4 linked regions of the Homo sapiens genome follow. The protein of the gene in region 1 purifies or fractionates together with the protein of each later gene. This does not show direct contact. Each region holds a gene or a part of one and is shown on either strand. Other genes may lie near its edges.

The links.
Region 2: the proteins of CROCC (region 1) and TGFBRAP1 purify together in Homo sapiens (affinity purification with mass spectrometry; one large-scale study listed by BioGRID and IntAct). This does not show direct contact.
Region 3: the proteins of CROCC (region 1) and PEX14 purify together in Homo sapiens (affinity purification with mass spectrometry; one large-scale study listed by BioGRID and IntAct). This does not show direct contact.
Region 4: the proteins of CROCC (region 1) and MSN fractionate together in Homo sapiens (co-fractionation; one large-scale study listed by BioGRID). This does not show direct contact.

Annotation. Positions count from the first base shown.
Region 1 is NC_000001.11:16,927,362-16,933,045, reverse strand, and holds part of CROCC (rootletin), read right to left. Parts: intron 3,201-5,684; coding exon 3,015-3,200; intron 2,923-3,014; coding exon 2,839-2,922; intron 2,761-2,838; coding exon 2,699-2,760; intron 2,618-2,698; coding exon 2,452-2,617; intron 1,756-2,451; coding exon 1,649-1,755; intron 1-1,648. UniProt on the Homo sapiens protein: Major structural component of the ciliary rootlet, a cytoskeletal-like structure in ciliated cells which originates from the basal body at the proximal end of a cilium and extends proximally toward the cell nucleus.
Region 2 is NC_000002.12:105,308,162-105,313,845, reverse strand, and holds part of TGFBRAP1 (transforming growth factor-beta receptor-associated protein 1), read left to right. Parts: intron 1-5,527; 5' UTR 5,528-5,544; coding exon 5,545-5,684. UniProt on the Homo sapiens protein: Plays a role in the TGF-beta/activin signaling pathway. It associates with inactive heteromeric TGF-beta and activin receptor complexes, mainly through the type II receptor, and is released upon activation of signaling.
Region 3 is NC_000001.11:10,620,425-10,626,108, forward strand, and holds part of PEX14 (peroxisomal membrane protein PEX14), read left to right. Parts: intron 1-2,594; coding exon 2,595-2,697; intron 2,698-3,915; coding exon 3,916-4,013; intron 4,014-5,684. UniProt on the Homo sapiens protein: Component of the PEX13-PEX14 docking complex, a translocon channel that specifically mediates the import of peroxisomal cargo proteins bound to PEX5 receptor.
Region 4 is NC_000023.11:65,714,772-65,720,455, forward strand, and holds part of MSN (moesin), read left to right. Parts: intron 1-2,046; coding exon 2,047-2,130; intron 2,131-5,684. UniProt on the Homo sapiens protein: Ezrin-radixin-moesin (ERM) family protein that connects the actin cytoskeleton to the plasma membrane and thereby regulates the structure and function of specific domains of the cell cortex.

The sequences.
Region 1 (5,684 bases):
TGGGCTCAGGAGTTCAAGACCAGCCTGGGCAACAAAGTGAGACCTCGACTCTACAAGAAATAAAAAAATCAGCAAGCCTGGTGGCATGCACCTGTAGTCCCAGCTGCACAGGATCTGAGGTAGGAGGATTGCTTGAGACGAGGAGGCTGAGGCTGTAGTGAGCCATAAAGAAAAGAAAAGATTACTAACTAAAATGTTTTTAACGCACTAAATGAAATACCTTGGCCTCCTGCCTTGGGGCTCTCTCCGCAGCCTCCCTGACACTACTGTTGAGCTGACTGCTCACACGGATCAGGCAGGCCCAAGCTCCCCCGCTGAGGCAGGCTCTCCTTTCCCTGTACCAGCTCTTCATTGCAACCCCCCTGGCTGCCATGGGCTCCCACCTCCATGCCTTTGCTCATGCCTTGCTCCTGCTTGGAGCGCCTGCTGCTCTGCTTCAACCCTACCCATCCCTTGAGGCTCTGTGCAAATTCCATCTCCACAAAGTGGTTTTTCTGACCTCCCCACCCCTCCCATCCTTCTGAGCCTCGAGGACATTCCCTCTGTTCCACGTACATATCACTGACCACTCGCTTCCTCAGTCTAGAATTTTATTTTACTTTTTTTGGATGGAGTTCTGCTCTTGTTGCCCAGGCCGGAGTACAATGGCGAGATCTCGGCTCACCGCAACCTCTGCCTCCCAGGTTCAAGCAATTCTCCTGCCTCAGCCTCCCGAGTAGCTGGGATTACAGGCATGCACCACTATGCCCGGCTAATTTTGTATTTTTAGTAGAGACAGGGTTTCTCCATGTTGAGGCTGGTCTTGAACTCCTAACCTCAGGTGATCCACCCGCCTCGGCCTCCTCAAGTGCTGGGATTACAGGCGTGAGCCACCGTGCCCAGCCTAGAATTTTGGGGATCTACATCTTTTCATCACAAGAGGCTGTGAGGTCCTTGGTAGCAAAGCTGAATATTCTAGTGGATTAAAATCAGGAACTTCGGCCTGGCGCTGTGGCTCATGCCTATAATCCCAGCACTTTGGGAGGCTGAGGCTGGCTGATTGCTTGAGCTCAGGAGTTCGAGACCATCCTGGGCAACATGGTGAAACCCCGTCTCTACTAAAATACAAAAAAAAAAAAAAAATTAGCTGGGTGTGGCGGCATGTGCCTGTTATCCCAGCAACTCAGGAGGCTGAGGCAGGAGAATTGCTTGAACCCAGGAGGTGAAGGTTGCAGTGATCCAAGATCGTGCCACCTCACTCCAGCCTGGTGACAGAGCAAGACTCCGTCTGAGAAAAAAAAAAAATCAGGAACTTCAAACTCTGACTCAGCCACTTATGTACTACTGTGTGACCTCAGGAAGATCACTCAACCTCTCTGCGCCACAATGTCCTCATCTGTAATATGTGAATGAACACAGTTCCTACCTCACAGGGAAGCTATGAATATTAGTTGAAATGAAATATACAATGAGCCTAGCCCAGAGTAAACATCTAATAAATGCTGACTGCCACGACTGTGGTAATGGTTATTACAAGTTGCCTCTGTGTCCTCACCGGCCCTTGTGCACAGTAAGTGCGTTGAGTTGAACTGAAATTCAACTGAGTTCAGTTGGACATAAAGAGCAGGGCTGGCTCTCAGCTGCTGCCCCGTCCCCGGCCAGGCCTCACCTCTCAGTGAACATCTTCACCTCGCTGACCAGCCGCCGGAACCCCACCACCTGCCTCCAGAGGAGGAGCAGGCGACTGTGCTCGTTGCTGAAGTAGGCGTTGAAGGACTGGAGGGAAGACATGCCGAGGGAAGGGTTGGTGTGAGAGCGGGTTTACTCCCTCCCACTGCTTCCCTCATCTCCGACCATCCTGGGAGGCACCGTCGTTCAGGGATTGGGTCTTCCTGTGGGTCTGTGCACAGAGCTGTGTTGCAGCGGCCATGCTCAGCCTCCCAAGCCTCATGGCTCCCTCCTGCACAGGGACCTGGGTTTCAAGTCCTCTTTTGGCTGCAAGAGGCAGCAACGAAGGGCAAAAATGCAAGGGACCTAGCTTTGCATCCCAGCTGCCAGTTGCATGACTGTGGGCAGGTTACTTAAACTCTCTTTATTTATTTACTTATTTGGAGACAGAGTCTTGCTTTGTTGCCCAGGATGGAGTGCAGTGGCACGATCTCTCAGCCTCCCAAAGTGCTGGGATTACAGGCGTGAGCCACTGCGACCGGCCTTAACCTCTCTTTAAAATGAGGAGAATGATAGCACCTACCACATGCAGTTATCATGAGGAATAAAGGTCAACGCACACCGTGCACGTGGTACATGCTACACACTGATAAAGACCAGCTATTGTGATGACGGCTATTTACTTCTGCTAACAGGCTCCCTTGGACAGTGCTCCCTCTCCCTCTCCAGGCTTCTGAGTCCTCCCTCCTCTGCAGTGCCCCTTCCTCTTGGGTCAGGCTGGCCTCCCTGCACCCCCATGCCCACCTCCTCCTCGCGCCTCCACGCCGCCTCCCGGTGCTCCAGCTCCTTGCGGCAGCGTGTCCAGTCATTGGTCACCTTTCGTATGTCCTCACTCAGAGCCTGGTTGGCCGAGCCTGCCTGGTCCAGCTGTTCTCGGAGCATGGCATTCACCTGGGCCAGGCTGGCACTCCTGAATGGGGCACAGGGGATCAGTAGGCGCTCGCGCAGGGGGCCATCCTGCCAGCCCTGGCCCTCCCTGCTGCGCCCTCACCTCTGCTGCTCCTCCTCCAGCCGGATGAGGGCGCTTTCCAGGTCTTGGCTGTGCTCTGTGTCCTGGGTGGGAGAGAGGTTAAAGCATCAGGTTGGGCAGGTGGAGGGCAGGGCCTGCCCCTGCCCCACACTGGCACCCACCCTCAGCCGCTGCTGCTCCAGCTCTCCGGATCTCTCCAGCAGCTGCTGCTCCAGCTCCGAGCACCTCTTCTTGTACTGGAGAATCTGGGGATGGGGAGCTGATGGTGAGCCCCAGGGGTTGGGGCGGGGCAAAGTGAACAGGTGGGAGGACAGGAGCAGGAGTGGGTGGTCCTGACCTTGCCCTGCAGCCGCTGCACAAGCTGGGCCTGCCGCTGCTGGCCCTCCTGGTAGGCCTGCAGCTTGCGCCGGTAGGAGGCCTGCTCCTCCTGCAGCTGCCTCCGCAACTCCACGCTCTGCCGTACCAGCCCCCTGGGCTCCTGCGTCTCCAGCTCCCCAGGCTCCAGCCGCAGAGCCTGCTCCAGCTGCAGGGAAGGGCCCTGGGTGAGAGTCCTGGGCCTCCTGGGAAGGCAGGCTCAGGCTTCTGTAGGGCGTGGCAGGCTGGGCCCAGACCCACAATGCCTTGTAGGCTGATAGCCTGGCGCCCTGGGGAGCAGCACATGTGGGCAAGCCCAGGGGCAGTGCACGTGTGTATGGGGTGATGCAGCCATGCACGGGCACGCAGACGGGGCATGCATGGACACATGCAGGTGAGCCCACAAACCCAAACCACGCAGGCAAAGCTCAAAGGTGCACCTGGGTCAACCTCAGGGGCCTCAGTACACCATGTGCCTCTCCTCCAGAACACTTAGCCCTGTCGTGGTTTCTGTTTATTACATTGATGCCTGTGTCTTCCCACCATGCCCCGACCCCAATGTGAGCTCAGGAAAGCCTGGATTTTTTGTTCCTCATTGTATCTTAGTACTAGAATGGTGGCTGTGGAATGGCATGGCTCACGCTCAGTAAATATTTGTTGCGATAGTGAATTAATGGGATGAGCTCATGGGAATACATTCAAAACAGAGGTGTCAATCTGTCTATGCATATCTGACCTTAAAGATATGCACACACATAACACATACAGGCAACCTCAAACATTCCCGGAGGACACGAAGGAACCCCCTCATATACACAGCATTAAGATTTGTAAGAGGTGCACACAGGTGTTGCCCTATACGGCGCCTGCATATTAATGCCCCCTTCTGGCTGGGTGCAGTGGCTCATGCCTGTGATCCCAGCACTTTTGGAGGTCAAGGCGGGTAGATCACTTGAAGTCAGGGGTTCAAGACCAGCCTGGCTAACGTGATGAAACCCCGTCTCTACTAAAAATACAAAAATTAGCTGGGCGTGGTGTCATGCACCTGTAATCCCAGTTACTCAAGAGGCTGACGCAGGAGAATCACTTGAACCTGGGAGGCGGAGGTTGCAGTGAGCCGAGATCGTGCCACTGCACTCCAGCCTGGGCGACAGAGCAAGACTCCATCTTTATTTATTTATTTTTTATTTTATTTTATTTATTTATTTTTTTGAGACAGAGTCTTGCACTGTCTCCTGGGCTGGAGTGCAATGGCTCGATCTCGGATCACTGCAACCTACACCTCCCGGGTTCAAATGATTCTCCTGCCTCAGTCTCCCAAGTAGCTGGGACTACAGGTGCACGCCACCACACCTGGCTAATTTTTTGTATTTTTAGTAGAGATGGGGTTTCACTATGTTGGCCAGGCTGGTCTCGAACTCCTGACCTCGTAATCCACCCGCCTCGGCCTCCCAAAGTGCTGGGATTACAGGTGTGAGCCACAGCATCCGGCCCAAGACTCCATCTTAAAAAAAAAAAGGTCCCCTCCATCCTCACTGCAGGAAAGCCTCTGTTGCTGCTGCCCTTCCTCCACCCCCAGGAAGCTTCCATCCCGCACATCCTCAGACCCCTGTGGGCTCTGGCTGTCCCTACCAGCCATAGAACCCTCTCAACTCCCTTAAGGCACCTGCTGGCCCCAGGTGGCCCCTCATCTTCCCCAGCTGTTGGGGGAAGGGAGGTGAGGGAGGAGCAGGGCAGTGGGAGAGCACACAGTGGGTCAAGGGCACCTGGCAGCGACAACACCCCAGCCCAGCTTACTCTGATGCTAGCCCTGCACTCACCATCTGCATCCTCAGGACCTGGCCTGCTACAGCCCAGGCAGGGCATTCAAAAGCCCACCCGTGCAGGGCCACGCCAGCCACAGGAAGCCAACAGGAGGGCAGCTGCTCTCACCCACGCTCATCTCGGGTCTTGGGTCCAGGCCAGGTTAGCGGTAGGGAAGGTGCCCTCCAGGCCTGCATTGACCCCATATGCTGAGAGATGTTCTATGAGCCACAGACAAAGCAAGGACATCTCTACCCACCCCACCCCCGGGACACGTGCATGGCAGCCCCACCAATAGGGAGGAGCTAACTGTGACTACTTGGGGGCTTCCCCCTGAGTCTGGAGGAACACAGTCCAAGGCTGTGCAGGGGAGGTGGAAGTAGGGGGTTTCTGCCTGGATGGCGGCTGCAGGCCTGTCAAGCGTCTGTGCCAAGCCCACTGAGGTCAATGGTGAGCGGTGTCCACATCTGTGTGTGGTGGCGGTGGCCTGAGGCAGCCACACAGGCTGTGCACTGATGTTGGTGGCTCTCACTAGGTGCGAGTGGGGTGTATTTTGTCATTTGTCTCCACGCAGGACACTGTGTGTGTAGTGTGTGGGTGCTGAGTTCACGTCGACTGTTTGGTGCATCTGAGCCTTCCCGTGAACGGCTAAGGCGGCATCTGTGGCTGAAGGTCTATGTTGTGGCGCGGGTGTTGGGCCTGGCTGTGTGTATCAGGGTATATGTCTGTGTGTCGGTGAGGCAAGTGTACAACCGCATGTGGGTGGGTCTGGGGGGTGTGCCTGGGCTCCCTGGTATGTGTGATACACACTTTGTGCATCTGGGCATACCTTTGTGGGCCGATTGGTGGC
Region 2 (5,684 bases), on another chromosome or scaffold:
ATTTATTTTATTTAATGCTTTTTCTGAATCTTTTGAAATAGTTTTTTCTTTTAATTTATAAATGTGGTGAGCTAAACAGATTTTATTTCCTTAAACCAATACTGCATCCCAACTTAGCCATATTGCATTTTTAATATATATTTGTGGATTTCGTGTGCTAATATTTAGTGTTTTTGCAGGTTTATTTGTGAGTAAGAATGATCTGTGATTTTTCTTTTTTCCTGTATCCTTATCTGGCTTGAATATCAAAGTTTTACTTTCTACTACTTTCATAAAATAAAGTAAGGATATGTTCCCTCTTTTATTTATCTTTTTATCCTTAGAAACATTTATTATGTGAAATTGGAATTAGGTGGTTCCTAAGTGTTTAGTGGAACTCGCTAGGAAATCCATCTGGACCCAGTGCTTGCTTTGTAGGATAGACAGTGTCTATTAAATCAGAATGTAGCCAGTGCTCTGTGCTGCCCATAAACTCATCCCAGTCAGCTCTCCTGGCCTTGGCCTTGTGCTGTGAAAAGAAGTGGGACCTCTAGAAGCCTACATAGCTTTTGTAACAGGTCTCCAAGTAAAGAACACAGAAACTTCCTTTGAAACTTATGGGTAATATAAAATCTGTGGCGCCCACCCCATGTGTAGCCGGAAAGAACAGAATTGTCATTTTTGAACTGAGGTTTAGGAAACTTCCTAAGGAGTAAGGGAAGATGCCAAAAGTCATCAGTTCTCTTTTTTTTTTGAGACAGAGTTTCACTCTTGTTGCCCAGGCTGGAGTGCAGTGGCGCGATCTCTGCTCACTGCAACCTCCGCTTCCCGGGTTCAAGTGATTCTCCTGCCTCAGCCTCTCAAGTAGCTGGAATTACAGGCATGTGCCATCACGCCTGGCTAATTTTTGTATTTTTAGTAGAAGCAAGGTTTCACCATGTTGGCCAGGCTGGTCTCGAACTCCTGACCTCAGGTGGTCCACCTGCCTCGGCCTCCCAAAGTGCTGGGATTACAGGTGTAAGCCACCATGCCCGGCCAAAAGTCATCAGTTCTTTTAAAGTGATGCCAGATACTGACTAAAAGATAATGTTTCTGTGTACATTTGTAGAAAAAGATTTGTATTTTTACATTAGCATCTTTAAAGATGCTGACTAAGATTCTGACTATCACCAGTGGCAGAATCTTTAAAATGACAATGTGCATATTCTTAACCTGGTAGGAAATAATTACTAATATTTTTATTTTGACCCTTAGCATGTATTGCTTTATACTATTACTGATTTATTTTTCTAGTCCTATTTCCTTAATAGGACGGGGAGACTCTTAGGAAGTGGGATTGTGTCTTGTAATTGTTTAGTTTTTTGCAAACTTAGAGGTGCTTGCTGCATATGCAAGGTTAGCTTAATTAAATTATGGTCCTTGAGCATCCTAGCATTTTCCAATCTCTTCCCTACCTGGGTATGTATTTTGAAATTTTAAGAAAACATTAAAATGTTGATCTTTTAAATTATTATAATCATACTTTTAAAGTGAATTTTTTAAATTTAATATTCTTATTTTTTTTAAAAATAGAGACCAAGTCTCAATATTTTGCCCAGGCTGGTCTTGAACTCTTGGGCACAAGTGATCTTCCTGCCTGGGCCTCTCAAAGTGTTAGGATTATAGGTAAGCCTTAAAGTGAAGTTCTAACAAAAAGTTTAAATTTTCGATCATTTTGAGATCACACAGTAAAGTATGAATTTTACACCTTAGAGAAACGTTTCCTTTTGAAACATTACCATGTTGAAACTTCTCTGATTCAGAACCCCAGCAAGTTATATTTAATAGAGGTGTGGCCTAAAGTTTATCTTTTTATGATTCATATTTTATCTAAGTAAATATATCATGTGAATTAGATCATGGAGAGAATTTTCCCACTGCTTAAAAAAAATAGTTTTTTAAATTAATTTTTTTTTTTTGAGATGGAGTTTTGCTCCTGTCACCCAGGCTGGAGTGCAGTGGTACGATCTCGGCTCACTGCACCCTCTGCCTCCCAGTTCAAGCGATTCTCCTGCCTCAGCCTCCTGAATAGCTGGAATTACAGGTGCCCGCCACCATGCCTGGCTAACTTTTTTTTGTGTGTGTATTTTTAGTAGAGACGGGGTTTTGCCATGTTGGGCAGGCTGGTCTTGAACTCCTGACCTCAGGTGATCCGCCTGCCTCAGCCTCCCAAAATGGTGGGATTACAGGTGTGAGCCACCACTCCTAGCCAATTTTTTTTTCTTTTTTCTTTTTTTTTCTGTGTGAAAGCATCTCACACTGTTTCCCAGGCTGGAGAGCGGTGGTGCAATCATGGCTCACTGAAGCCGCAAACCACTGGGCTCAAGCAACCCTCCTACCTCAGCCTCCTGAGGAGGAGGGAATACAGGTGTGCCCCACCAGGTCTGGCTAAGTTTTTATATTTTTTTTGTAGAGACAGGGTTAAGGATAAGTCATTTTTAAGTGCTAGCATGTTACTTCTTCAGCTTTCATTTACCTCCATGTAATTCTGCATTATTACCATTTAATTACCAAAGCAAGTCCTTAATTTAAAGGCCTATAATAGGAAGCTTATCTTTAGCAAGGCTTGAATAACAGTTTACTAGATAATGAAACAATATTGCATTTGTTTTTAAATATTATAGAGTTATGACTTTTTAGTAAACCATATGTTTTTTTGTTTTTTGTTTTTTTTTTTTTTTTACAGCTCTCTCTCCCTCTCCCCTTCTCTATCTACCCCAGGATTTAGACTAAATATGAGGCGTTTGATTCTTTCTATAATATTCTTTACTGCAAATGTGTTTAGTTTATCCCTTATGCTAACTGAAGACAGGGGCTGGAATTATGAATATTATACTTTTAAGAAGCTAAATAAAAGGAGTTTGATTGTAGGTGCCCAGAGTTTGTTTCTCTATTCCTTCCGCAAAGGGAGACACAATTTATATTTTAAATGGCAGAACTGCTTACTCCTGCCATTTAAAAAAGACAACCCTGATTGATTAATCAATGAAGGAAGAAGTATTTTGTATTACTTCACTTTCACTAACTTAGATGTCTGGAAGCTGACATTTCAATATCTGGGTTTTACTCATTAGCTCTTAAATGGAGAAAAAAATGTTGTCTAGGTGGGTTTTGGTGGTTATGTTTGGTTGGGACAAATACATGATGTTGTTTAAGAGCTGTTTGTGCCAGAGACTATTTGTAGAAGCCTGCAAGAGTTCTGCACTCGGCCTCACCTGGGATTCTGGGGATGTTCCCACAGCCCCGAGGTAGATGGACATGATTCCTTCTCTGTGGTGCCTTTAGAACCTCCCTCTACACTTCCCCCAGCTCTTTTCCATAGTTTCTGTGAAGATGAGCTCCCGTAGGTGAGTGTGAAGATGTCTTAGGGGTGGGGCAGGTGTGTGAGTGTGTGTTCTGGCTTATGATGCAGGCTGTGTTTTGGCGGAGGTGAACAGGTTACCCATATCTGAGGACAGAAGACAGCATAGTCTAATCTCTTGGTGCCCAGCTTGGGAAATAAACACCTGAAGCAAGCTGGTAGTTTGAGAGAGGAGTGAGAGCTGATCCAGACTGGGAGGGAATCATAGTATTTATGATGAGATCCAAAAGTTTGAGTGCTGTGTGCCAGCTGTCCGCATTTTATATGAGGTCACTTACTTAATCGTCCAACAATCCTATGAAGTAGGTACCGTTATTCTCATTTCACAGATGAGGCAGTTGAGGCTGGAATAGCCAAGTGTCCATTCCAGCTGCTGTAACAAACTACCATACACTAGGTAATTAATAGATAATAGAAATGTATTGCTTACCGTTCATGGAGGCTGGGAAGTCCAAGATTAAGGCATGGTAGGCTCAGTGTTTGGTGAGGGCCCATCCCTCAGGGGTGGTGCCTTGCAGCTGCCTCCTCACATAGTGGATGGAAGGAACAAATAAGCTCTCTGGGGCCTCTTTAATAAGGGCACTAATGCCATTCATAAGGGCTCCACCCTCATGACCTAATCACCTCCCCACCTCCCAACACTACCACTCTGGGGATTAAGTTCCAACATATGAATTTTAGGGGGACACAGACATTCTGACCATAGCACCAAGTAATTTGCTCAAGTGATGGGAAGAAAACAGGAAGGACTGATGTGTCTACAGACAAGCCTCCTCCTCAACCCTGGGGTATCCTCCCTCCTGGGGGTTTTGTAGAGCTAAGGAAGGGGGCTGGAGTCTCACTTGTGTGTAGCTGTCATTGCCCCCATGGATGGGGGCAGACACAAAATTGTAGAATTCCAAATTTTCTATTTGAAAGGCACCAAAGAAGTTCTCTGATTCCTTCCCTTCCCTGATGCGTGAACCTTTCTTGAATATTTCTGAGAGGTCTTCCCTGCTTTGCTGGAATGCCTCCAAGTATTAGGAACTTAAGCTCTCATGAAGCAGCACTGTTCCATGTTCAGACAACTTGAGATGAGGAAGTGACAGTGATAGCAGCCTTTCACTTCAAGCTCTCTGAACATGCAGCAGTGCTGACGCAAGCCCAGCCAGCTGCCCTGCAGCTCCCGTCATTCTCTGCAGTCCTCTTTCCAGCTCTCTGATCCCCTGCCCTGCTCCCGCTCACAGGGACTGTGCCTTTGAGTTTGCTTCTGGCTGCCTGAGAAGTCAGAAAGGCCACCTTGCCTGATCTTCTCCCTGTGACTTTGTGGAGTGTGAAGCCACAGTTCTCTGCAGAAGATGAAGTAGGAGGCGACGGGCTAGTGTGTGGGAAAGTCTCACTTCCAATGGGAGCCAGGGACCGGTCGGTCCACACATCCACTAAATAGCTCCACTCACCATCTGAAAGCCTTTCGAGATCCGAGGCACACCTTTACTCTCCACATGAATACATTTACTCCGGAGCTGAGGCTGATGCGCCTGCCTTATTGGGAAGAACACAAAGGAATCCAAGGCCTGGCGTCTGCCTCGGTGTTCCTGGCAGGATCCTGTGACTGTGGTTGTGTTCATTGACTAAAGTGCATATTCAAGTAGCTGTAGAAACTCAGGGAAGATCAGTGAGGATCATTTCTGCCTTTTTCAGAAATCCTTTTTGTTTTTTTTTTTAAATGGGGTCTCATTATATTGCCCAGGCTGGCCTCCAGCTCCTGGGGTCAAGCCATCCTCCTGCCTCACAGAAATCCTTTTGTTATGTTGCCCGTGGGTGAATGCATGCATTTGTCTTCTGCCTTCAAGCGTGTCTCCCAGGAGCAATGTGAGGAGGCTCCAGGTGACTCTGTGTGGGGACTGAGCAGGATGGCACGTGATCACAAGCACATACATATGTGTATATGGGTGTGTGTGTGTGTATGTGTCTGTGGTTTTCTTCTTGGGTCTTCTGCTGTCTGATGGGGGAGGTCTGTGGGGAAATGGTTTCTTTCCATTTTTTGATAGCGTGGAATGACTTTCTTTAATGAAAATGACAACTAGGGAATCCACGTATCATTATTGCAGCCTCTGTTTCTGCTTCTTCCTTGTTCCTCTAAAATTAGTTTTCCTCTTTCTCTTCCAGCAGATCAGCCAGTAGACATGATGAGCATCAAAGCCTTTACGCTTGTCTCTGCTGTGGAGCGGGAGCTGCTGATGGGCGACAAGGAGCGCGTCAACATAGAGTGCGTGGAGTGCTGCGGCAGGGACCTCTACGTGGGCACCAACGACTGCTTCGTCTA
Region 3 (5,684 bases), 6.3 Mb from region 1:
TTGCAGTGAACTGAGATCACACTACTGCACTCCAGCCTCGGCAACAGAAGGAGACCCTGTCTCAATTTAAAAAACAAAATAAGCCAGGCGCAGTGGCTCATGCCTGTAATCCCAGGACTTTGGGAGGCTGAGGTGGGCGGATCACTTGAGGTCAGGAGTTTGAGACCAGCCTGGCCAACAAGGTGAAACCCTGTCTCTACTGATAATACAAAAATTAGCTGGGTGTCATGGCGTGCACCTGTAATCCCAGCTACTTGGGAGGCTGAGGCAGGAGAATCACTTGAGCCTGGGAGGCATAGGTTGCAGTGAGCCTGCAGTGAGCCGAGATTGTGCCACTGCACTCCAGCGTGGGTGAAAGAGCGAGACTTTGTCTCAAATAAATACATAAATAAACAGAACAGAACAAAAACACCTCTTGGGACCCGGTTCTTCTCCCTCTGAACTGGTGCCCCCTTCAAATCACTGACTGTATACAAGCACCAAGAAGAATGTGACACGAACGCCAGAGTCCTCAGATGAATGCCCTGGCTGTAATGAGCAGTAGGCACTGTCACATGGCCACCCATGGAGGGCCTGTGGCCTGACGGGAGCGGGAGGGCAGCTCGGCAGCCCGCCTTAGCGTGGGCACTCACACGGAGCTGCCACTTGTAGTTTCTACGAAGCTCTGGGCTCTCCGCTCTGTTTTAAAAAGAAAAGAAACATTGCAATATCAGTCACAATGGTAACAAGAGAATTTCTAAAGCATCTGCTCAGTTTCTCGAAATTAAAAAAAAAAAAAAAAAGAAATGGTAAAAAGCCCTCGACTGGCTTTATAAGCACGTGAAGACTTTGGCTAGGGCAGCGTGTCTGCTCCTGCCCTTAGGACTTCTGATCTCAGAAATGGGGTGTTTAGTTGGTTACACACACATATATGAATTCTTTTTTTTTTTTTTTTTTTTTTGAGACACAGTCTAACTCTGTTACCCGGGCTGGAGTGCAGTGGCATGATCTCTGCTCACTGCAGCCTCTGCCTCCCGGGTTCAAGCGATTCTCCAGCCACAGCCTCCCGAGGAGCTGGGATTACAGGCATGCGCCACCACACTCAGCTAATCTTTATATTTTTAGTAGAGACGGAGTTTCACTGTGTTGGCCAGGCTGGTCTCGAACGCCTGACCTCATGATCTGCCCACCTCAGCCTCCCAAAGTGCTGGGATTACAAGCGTGAGCCACCGCGCCCGGCCAAGAATTCTTTACCTTTCTTGCTGAGGACATTTCATCCTGAAGTGTAAGGCTACCTTTGATGAGTTTTGGCTCAGTTGTGGGTAATAGCTCACACTGTGGTTGAAAAGCACTTTGCAAAATAGAAAATGCGTCTATACATGTGCTGCTGAAGAATGATCTTCACTTAGGAGTCACTCTGGAAATGAGTTCCCACAAACCCCTTGTGAGAGAGCTTCTTTTCCTTCCCTGGTACAGAAACCGTAATGGAGAAGTTTCCGTCCTCTTTCCTATCTGGGCCCAGATAGATTAAGAACCAAAGTTATCCCCGGGCAGCTCCTGCCAGGCTTGCACTGCACTGCCTCTGGCAGTGCCCACTGAAGGGGGCAGCGGGTCTCACTCCTCACCTGGGGGGCTTTGTCTCCATGTCCCGAGTGGCTGGACGTCAGTGCACATGTTCCTACACGCAGCTGTCCCTGCAGGCCCCACCACCCACCTCCACCCCTCCACACCCTCACCTCCAAGGCAACCAAGAGCACCAGTTGCCAGCCCTGCCCTGCCTGCCCCCTTCCTGAACGGCTCCTTCGGGCATCCCTGGTTCTAGGCCCCTGTGAGGGGTGGCCCTGCCGCATTCACTTTCTTTTTCCCCAGAGCCAGTTTCTTCTGGTCCTGCGCCTTCCTCTCCCTTCTGCCTTGTGTTTCCTTCTGGGGAACTCGACTTCTTTTGACTCTTACGTGAAGGAAGTTTGTTCTGAGGATTCAGGCTTCATTTAGAAAAAGACTGAGGTGACCTCTTCCAGCAGCCTCAGAGCGCACATGTTATCCCCTGGCGAGAGAACCAAGGGTCCCAGAAATGTGTTGTTGATTTTCCTTTAGTTTCTCCAGCGATGTTTTGTTTATTAATTTACTCGTTTGTTTCTGAATAGGTGATTCACTCACAGGTTCAAAATGTTCACAATTCAGGAGAACATGCCGGGAAGAGCTGCCCCGCCTCCCTCGCCTCCTGGAGGCTCCAGCATTATCTGTTGCTTGTGTGTCCATCCACATTTATATCTTACAACTTTGACAGTAGAGTTTATAACTTTGTGTTACAGAAATAGTGTAGCATCACTAAGAAAAGTAAATAAAGGAACCAAAAAGTTCCCATCACAGCAGATCCAGCTGACTCTCCCTGTCCACGTTCCCTCCTGGTCCTTGTCCTTATTCAGGCAGAATTTTTACGTGGTTGTAATCGCAGTCTCATAACTTTTTCAAATATCTTGTTCATTTATGGTGTTTGCTTAGGGTTTCCAAAACCCAGGGATGACAGGGAGAAAGTTGGGCGGCAGAATTTGAGAGATTGTTGGAGGATAACCCCGGGTCCGTATGCATTCCTCACCCTGTCCCGCTTCTTGCAGAAATACCTGCTCCCCCTCATCCTGGGCGGCCGAGAGGACAGAAAGCAGCTGGAGAGGATGGAGGCCGGTCTCTCTGAGCTGAGTGGCAGCGTGGCCCAGACAGGTAAAGATTAATGACTCCATCAAGTCACCCCTCACAGCCTTCTCCAAGCAGCCCCTTCTCTGCCCCTCCCCTCTCCCTCTGTCTCCACTCTATGTGGTGACTTCATTTATCTGCTCTGAGAATCTGTTCACATTTGCAAATGAAGCCGCCGTCATTTCGGTTTAATTTGAAATTGCTTGTTTACTGTCGGCGCGGCCTCAATTAATTATGTTTTTACGGAAAGGCTCCCAACCTCAGAATATTAATAAGGGGAATAAAATGACAGCCTTTCTAAGGGCTGTAAAGTTCATTTTTAATTTCTGCTTCTATGAGGTTTTCAGGGGGGTTTTCAGTGATTTTCCCCCTTCCCTCTAAGACTCGACTGTGGGGTCAAGAGAGTCTGTAATTACTGTGGCTCCCGGGACCCCAGCCACCTCCCCTGTTATCGACTCAACAGGGCTCGCGTTCATTACCCAGTGCCCCAGCGATGGCCCAGATTAGCTGGGACCTGTCGCGCCAGAGGTGGCTTCTCTTCTTTATAAACTTGTTTACTAGACGGCAGCTCTGAATCTAAAAACCAGAGCAAGGCCAATGAGAGAGCCACCTGTCCCAGGCAGGAGTCTGTGTCCCTCTGGAGCACGTTTGTGAAGCTCACAGAAACCCTCTGACACGTCCATCCTGCTGCCGTTTGCTCCTGCGAGGCTGACATTGGTGGCAACAAGGTCCTGAGGGGTCACGGGACACCAGGGAGTTGAGCAGGCAGCTTGGGTCAGGTGGGGAGGGTGGGAAGGAGCAGTGGGAAACAGGACGTGCGGCTTGAGCCACTCCTGGATGTGAATGTGGCGGGGACCTGAGATGCATCTCTCCCAGCATTGGAGACCCCAGGAGTTTCACAAGGACACTGAGGCCCAGGAGATGAAGGACGCAGGCGCCAGAGAAGCCGGGAGAGCTCAGCAAATCATAGCCAGCTCTAATTAGAGGGGAGAGGTTCTGGACGGATATACTGTTGACCATGGACAACTACACAATGGAAAGATAAAGTAGAAATACTAGAGGTTAGATACAGTGCAGGCAGATCACCCAGAGTGCAGATAAATTAGATGGATTGCGGGGGCTGGGGGTGTCTGCAGATAAATTAGATGGAGCGGGAACACGGGCAGCTCCGAGGTGTGCGGACCGAGCGAGGGGAACGTCTGTGCCTGTGAATTTGCCAGCGCCGTGACTGCTTTCTCCTCGCAGTGACTCAGTTACAGACGACCCTCGCCTCCGTCCAGGAGCTGCTGATTCAGCAGCAGCAGAAGATCCAGGAGCTTGCCCACGAGCTGGCCGCTGCCAAGGTACCTGTCTCTGCTGCACAGGGCCCTCCAGGCCCAGGTCTGTCCCATGTGCCCTTCACTCTTGTCCCTTGGGCCGGGCTTGCCACCTTCGGGAGCTGGACTTTGCCCCAGTCTCACAGTGGTTACACAGCCGTGGCCGATGCTGCCCTTTCTCTCCTTGTAGAGACAGGAGGCTGTTGCTGGGCAGTCAGTGTGACGTTTAACTGTCGAGGCCATCCTTTCTCTCTCTATGTCACCTCCCAACAGGAGGAAGGAAAAGCTACCCTCTGCCTGTGGAGATCTCATGGCAGCCACATCCCCGCAGCTCTGGAGGCTTTCTGTGTAGACATGGGACGGTCTCTACCTATAAGTTAGGTTGCAGGTCACAGCATGGCCAGGAGGGGTTCTGGAACAGACAGGGGAGAAGCGAGTCGCAGTCAGTTCACCAGCACCAGCCCCATCCACACCGCAGTGCAGCGGGCAGGTTCTCTAGACTCAGGTTCCATGGGTTCTGGCAATCCTAGGGAGCCAGAACCAACTCCCAAGGCAGTGTCCTTGCCTCACTGCCCAAATGTGAAGAAATCTTGGCGTGGCAGCTTCCAGGATCAGGCTGAATCCTGGTCCTGCCACTTGTTAGCTGTATGACCACAGGCAAGTTACTTAACCTCTCTGAGTCTTAGTCTCCTCATCTGTAAAATGGAGCCATAACGGCACCTAATTCCTGGGGCTCTTCATGGGTTCAAGAGGGTGCCTGGCTCCAGCCAGCTCGCAGGATTGCAGGCCTAGGTTCTGTGGGTGGGTAACAGAGGTCATCCCTGAGGCGGTATCAGACAGACCGGGCCCAGGAGACAGTGGCCTGGTAGCTCCAGAACACCCACTGGCTCCTCTCTCTGTCCCTTGTCCCACAGCTCTGTGGCCGGCGGACACTGCTCCCTGTCTGCCCCCACAGCCTGGGCTCTGGAGAGTCCCATCCCGAGTTGCTTACCCAGGGAAAGCCACTCCTAGCGTACGAGTTGGCTTGAGCCAGCACTCAGATCTTTTGCATTTGCAAAAACCATGAAAATGACAATCTTTCCATGGAGTCTGGGGTGTCTCTTGTGAAGAGGGTCCCAGGAATCTCCCCCCTGGATATCCAAACCACACACAGAGGTGCCACCTGCTCTTCCTCCTGGGATGGCTGTGGGTACTGGTGACCACCTCCAGCCACTGCAATGCGTGTTCTCCACGGGTGGCCGGTCCCTAAAGCACCAGGAAGCCCAGCGACAGCCCTGCCTGCTCTCCTGGGTCAGGTCATCTTTTGGATCCATGCTCTGCCTGTGGCCAGAAGCCATTCCGGAAATTGGAAAACTGTTTTCAGGCCTTACGCCTGAGATTAAGACCACATGTTGTGTTTAAGAAGCAGTGGGGGCCCGGGATGTGCTTGGTGGTGAGAGGGGTTGGGCCCCTCAGAGTCCCTCGAGCTGGCTTTGCTGCCGCTGTCCCTGGCCCACCCCAGCCTTCTCTCCCGAGCTGCATGGGGCCACTGGCTTGGCATCTAAACGCGTATGTGTGAGGACTTTGGTTACCCCATAAACCAAAGACCCAGAGCTGTGTTTTCTCAGCTGTAATGTAAGTTTTTATATCTGGCTTCCAAACTCCTACTGGAGCACTGTAAAAAATTAAAAAGAAGAGCTTTAAGTAATTAAAAAACCT
Region 4 (5,684 bases), on another chromosome or scaffold:
CTCGATAGTTTCTTTTGCTGTGCAGAAGCTCTTTAGTTTAGTTAGATCTCATTTGTCAATTTTTGCTTTTGTTGCAATTGCTTTTGGCGTCTTTGTTATGAAATCTTTGTCCATTCCTATGTTCAGAATGGTATTACGTAGGTTTTCTTTGAGGGTTTTTATAATTTTGAGTTTTACATTACTTTTACATTTAAGTCTTTAATACATATAGAGTTGATTTTTATATGTGAGATAAGGATGGGGTCCAGTTTCAATCTTCTACATATGGCTAACCAGTTATCCCAGCACTGTTTATTGAATTGGGAGTCCTTTTTCCATTGCTTGTTTTTGTCGACTTTGTCAAAGATCAGATGGTTGTAGGTGTGTGGCCTTATTTCTGGGCTCTCTATTCTGCTCCATTGGTCTCTGTGTCTGTTTTTGTACCAGTACAATGCTGTTTTGGTTACTGGAGCCCTCTAGTATCATTTGAAGTTGGGTAGCATGATGCCTCCAGCTTTGTTCTTTTTGCTTAGGATTGCCATGGTTATTCAGGCTGTTTTTTTGTTTCCATATGAATTTTAAAATAGTTTTTCCTAGTTCTGTGAAGAATGTCATTGGTAGTTTGATAGGAATAGCATTGAGTCTATTCTATGAATTGCTTTGGGCAGTATCACCATTTTAACAATATTGATTCTTCCTATTCATGAGCATGGACTGTTTCTCCATTTGTTTGTGTCATATCTGATTTCTTTGAGCAGTGATTTGTAGTTCTTCTTGTAGAGATCTTTCGCTTCCCTAGTTAACAGTATTCCTAGATATTTATTCTTTTGTGGCAGTTCTGAATGGGATTGCCTTCCTGATTTGGCTCTTGGCTTGACTGTTGTTGGTGTATACGAATGCTAGTGACTTTTGTATGTTGATTTTTGTACACTGAGACTTTGCTGAAGTTATTTATCAGATTAAGGAGCTTTTGGGCCGAGACTATTGGATTTTCTAGATATAGGATCATGTCATCTGCAAACAAGGATAGTTTGACTTCCTCTCCTCTTGCTTGGTTGCCCTCTATTTCTTTCTCTGGTCTGATTGCTCTGGCCAGGACTTCTAATACTATGTTGAATATGAGTGGTGAGAGAGGGCATTCTTGTCTTGTGTCGGTTTTAAAAGGGAATGCTTCCAGCTTTGGCGCATTCAGTATGATGTTGGTTGTGGCTTTATCAGATGGCTCTTATTATTTTGAGGTATGCTCCTTCAATACCTAGTTTATTGAGAACTTTTAACATGAAGGGGTGTTAGATTTTATTGAAAGCTTTTTCTGCCCTTTAGATTATCATGTGGAACCCAGTGCTCTTTGTCCTGATATTAATTTGCCTCTGCAATTGTTTACCAGTGCTATAGATAATCCAGGTAGATCAGAGGTGAGAAGAGAACCCTGTGAGATGAAGCTGTCTAGTATAGATGGAAAGGCCTTCCTGGAAGAAGTACAGTTATCATTTGCCTGCTCTTAGTTGTAGGCTGATCTGCATTCTTTTTTAAAAATTTTTTTGAGACAAAGTCTCGCTCTGTTGCCCAGGTTGGAGTGCAGTGGTGTGATCTCGGCTCACTGCAACCTCTACCTTCTGGGTTCCAGTGATTCTCATACCCCAGCCTCCCAAGTAGCTTGAACTACAGGTGTGCACCACCATGCCCGGATAATTTTTGTATTTTTAGTAGAGATGGGGTTTTGCCATGTTACCCAGGCTGGTCTCGAACTCCTGGCCTCAAGCAATCCACCCACCTCGGCCTCCCAAAGTGCTGGGATTACAGGCATGAGGCATTGCACCCGGCCTTCATGCTTGTCTGTTCTTTGGTAAGTATTGCTCTGTGGCTGTGTTGTTTGTCTTCAATAAGCTGCTTGGGAGCAGGGGTTGTGTTTGGGTCAATATTCTCCCTTCATCCCCATCAGTATCTAAGTTGCCCAGGCTCTTAGCATCCTAACTCCTTCCTCTGTGGTTGAGCAGAGACACTTGTCTCAGGCTCTGTTGAACACAGAGCCAGATGACTAACCTGCTTCCTTTGATCTCATCCTAGATCAGTGTGCGTGTGACCACCATGGATGCAGAGCTGGAGTTTGCCATCCAGCCCAACACCACCGGGAAGCAGCTATTTGACCAGGTAAGGCGGAGACTCCTTAGCCTCCTCTCCTTCTCTGAATAGCTTCCACCACAATGCCAACAATCCATGACTTTTGCCTCTTGTCAAAGAATCTCTCTTCCTGTTCACTCCAAGATAGATCAAAATGAAGGCTGATTCCAGACTTAATATGAAAGGAGGCAAAGTTAAACTTTGGCAGCCTGCACCCTATGGTCCTGATTAATTTTATCTTTGGTCCTGAATAAGGGAGAAAAGAAAATGGTGTATATTCTATGCTAGATGCTTTAAAAATCTTAGCATATGGAGCCTTCCTTTTAACTCTGAAACATGTAAGTGATGTCTTCTCCATTTTAATGATGAGGCTCAGAAGTTAAATAACTTAATTGCACCCAAATGATATTTGGCTGGGATTTGCACTCCACATTGTTGCCACTGCACCACACTGCCTCTGTCCCATGTTTTTGCTTCCTAGTAGAAGGAAACTAACTTACTCTCCCTGAGGTAGTAAGCTCTATGCACATTTCTCTCAAAAGAATGTTGGGACTTAGGACAACATGGGAGTTGATGGATGCAGTAGGAGGCTGCTTCATCTCCTACAGGCATGCCATGAAGATAATTGCTTACTCGCCATAGTGAAGAGGTCATTCCCATCTCCAACCCAAGGGGTGTCCCTTCATTGTGAATCATTATTGTCAGAAAGGATGTACTGTATACTATAATAAACAGATGGCAGCTACAGACATTTTTAGCATTCAAGGGAATGTGCCGTCTGTGGCCAGACTTCTAGGAGCAAAAATGAGGCTCCCATTTCCAGAGGCTGGGACCTCACCAGACAGGCCATTATCCTATTTCTCCACCAGACTCCGATGAAGTGGAGGTCTGAGTTATTGTCCAGGATGTTAGGCTGCATATCACCCTGATGGATTCTCCAGGCCCTCTTGCTTCCCTTTCTTCCTTGCTCTCTGTGTCCTTCTACCATATGAGAACTTCCCCAGGGTTGGAGAGAGGAAGAAAAAAAGAAGGAGGTAGTGTTCAAATAAGCTAATTCTATTCCTGTGAATACTTCTGACTGGTGAGAGAAAAGACAAGAGTAGAATGGAGACAGGGGTAGGAGAGGGCTAGAAATTTGAGGACAGCTTGGGTACACCTTCTGAGTTCTTATTACATAGAGTGGGAAAATTATTGTCTGTGGCTAATACAGATGAGAGTTAACATTTATCCAGGACTCAGTGTATGCTAAGTATTATGATAAGCATTTGACTATCACAAAGCTCTGTGAGTGCATGAATTAGTATGGGCATGTTTTACAGATGAGGACACAAAATCCTCATTTTCCTAGTTAGACCCTGGGAAAATTATTGAACTCTCTGGGTTGGTATCTTCATCCCCTCCCCCCGAGAAATATCTAATACTTACCTCACAGGATTTTTGTGAGTGTGTTATGTTTTGTATCTTACCTGTTACTCAAAAATCTGATTATAGTGGCATATAAGGATGTCCAATCCAAAAAGATAAATTCGAAATAGGTGAGAAAGATAAGAAAACACAAATAGGAAAGAAAGTGTTAGCTGGAAGAAAGCATCCAGCATATGGTAGAGAAGTAATAAATGATAGCTCCCTTTCCAATACCATTGTGCTTCTTGTATTATTAATTGAGCTGGAGTTGACGTGATGTGGTGGCTCATGTCTGTAATCCTAACACTGAGATGGGAGGATTGCTTGAGCCCAGGGGCTCGAGACCAGCCTGGGTAACACAGCGAGACCCTGTCTCTACAAAAAATTTAAAAATTAGCATGGCATGGTGGTGCACACCTATAGTCCCAGCTACTCAGGAGATTGTGCCAGGAGGGTTGCTCAAGCCCAGGAGTTCAAGGTTACAGTGAGCTATGATCACGCCACTGTACTCCAGCCTAGGTGACAGAGCAAGACTCTGTCTCTAAAAAAAAAAAAAAAAAGTAAAGAAAAATAATCTAGAATTGGGAGAATTGGGAGATGGGCTTAATGATCCTCAGAATATCTAACTTCAGATTTAGGTGGAACTTACTTCTCTGGAGTTTGTTTTGTGTTTGTTTTACTTTGAATGGCAAAGTGTAATCATTGATACTTAATTGGTGAAAATACAAATTAGTCTGAGGAATATTTAAATACAAGTTTACTACAATTAAAGTGATGTGCTTACATTCACATAGCTCACAAGTGATTATGGTGCTAGTCTGGAATGACTAAATGCATTCTAATTATAATTGTGCTTTGCATTCTCTCTTCACATGGAGGTTATATTGGAGAACTTTTAAAGGGACAGCCTAGTGAAGTCAAAAGGGCCTGGATAGAAAGTCATGAATCTTGGGCTGTAGGGTTGGCTCTATCACTAATTCGCTGTGATACAAACGTTTCCCTTATTTGGGCCTCAGTTTCTCATCTGTACAATGCCTAACTTGTTTCTCAAATCTGGTTATCTCTCAGAAAATTTATCTCTGGCATTTATTTGTGCATTCCATCTCTCTTTCTCTCCCATTTCTGTTCCTAGTATTGGGATTTCAGACAATCCTTTTCTGTAAAAAGGAGAGAAATGCCTCACCTGAGTATGATCAGCTGCTGGCATATGTGAGGAGGTAGGGCTAGCTGGCAGGGGGATCATCTCTTCCTTGACAGGCTTTTTACTGTCTCTAAGACAAAAGGGAGGAAGTGTCCATAGAACACATAGGCTTTTGGGCCCTTTGCTTTAGACAGCAGTATCATTCTGGGTAGCAGCTATTAGAGAGGGAAGCGGTTAGTCAGTGCAGATTTTACAGACCAGCTGGGAGCCAGAGGCTCCTTTGACATTTACCTATACTCCTTCCAAGAGCCCTGATTCTACTAATTCCCCATCCCAAACCAGATGACGCCATCCTCTACCCTCAACACTGGGGGCTTTGTATATGTGCATTGCAGGGGGATGGCTGTGGAGGATGAGGAAGGCATGATTTGGAGCCTAGTGGGGGCAGAAAAATTCTTGAACAAAGAGGTTTATTAACTTCAAAAAACCTCAATGCCTGGTAGTTTTTTGTTAGTGTTGGTTTGGTTTGTGTGCTGTGGGTGTGGATTTGAGGGAAGTCCAGATAGTAGGGAACCCCAGATAGTAGGGAACCCTGGGCAGATTGGTATGCTAGTTCTGAATGCTACTGCTTCCAAAACAAAGCCTTTGGGAGACTTGGAAACCAAGAAGTCCATGACTTCTCATCATTGTTATCTTGAGAAGTATCATTTATTGAGCACATACTATGGCCTATTCCTGGCTAGGCGCTTTAATCCTCACAATGCTCCTGCCTCTGTGAGGTGAAAGAACATACTCTAGGTCATGTAGTTAGTAAGTTGTGATATGGAATTTTGAATACAACTCTGATCACAAAACTATACTTTTCCTGCACTGCACTACTCTGTTTGGGGTGATTGGGAGTATTCAACTTAGAGAAGACTCAAGGAAGATATGCTTTCTGTCTTCAGACCTCTGAAGGACTATCATAAGAAGGAGGGGGGCAGTCACATTCTGTGAGTCAGAGGGACAGAGGTGGACCCCACAGGTGAGAAAATACAGG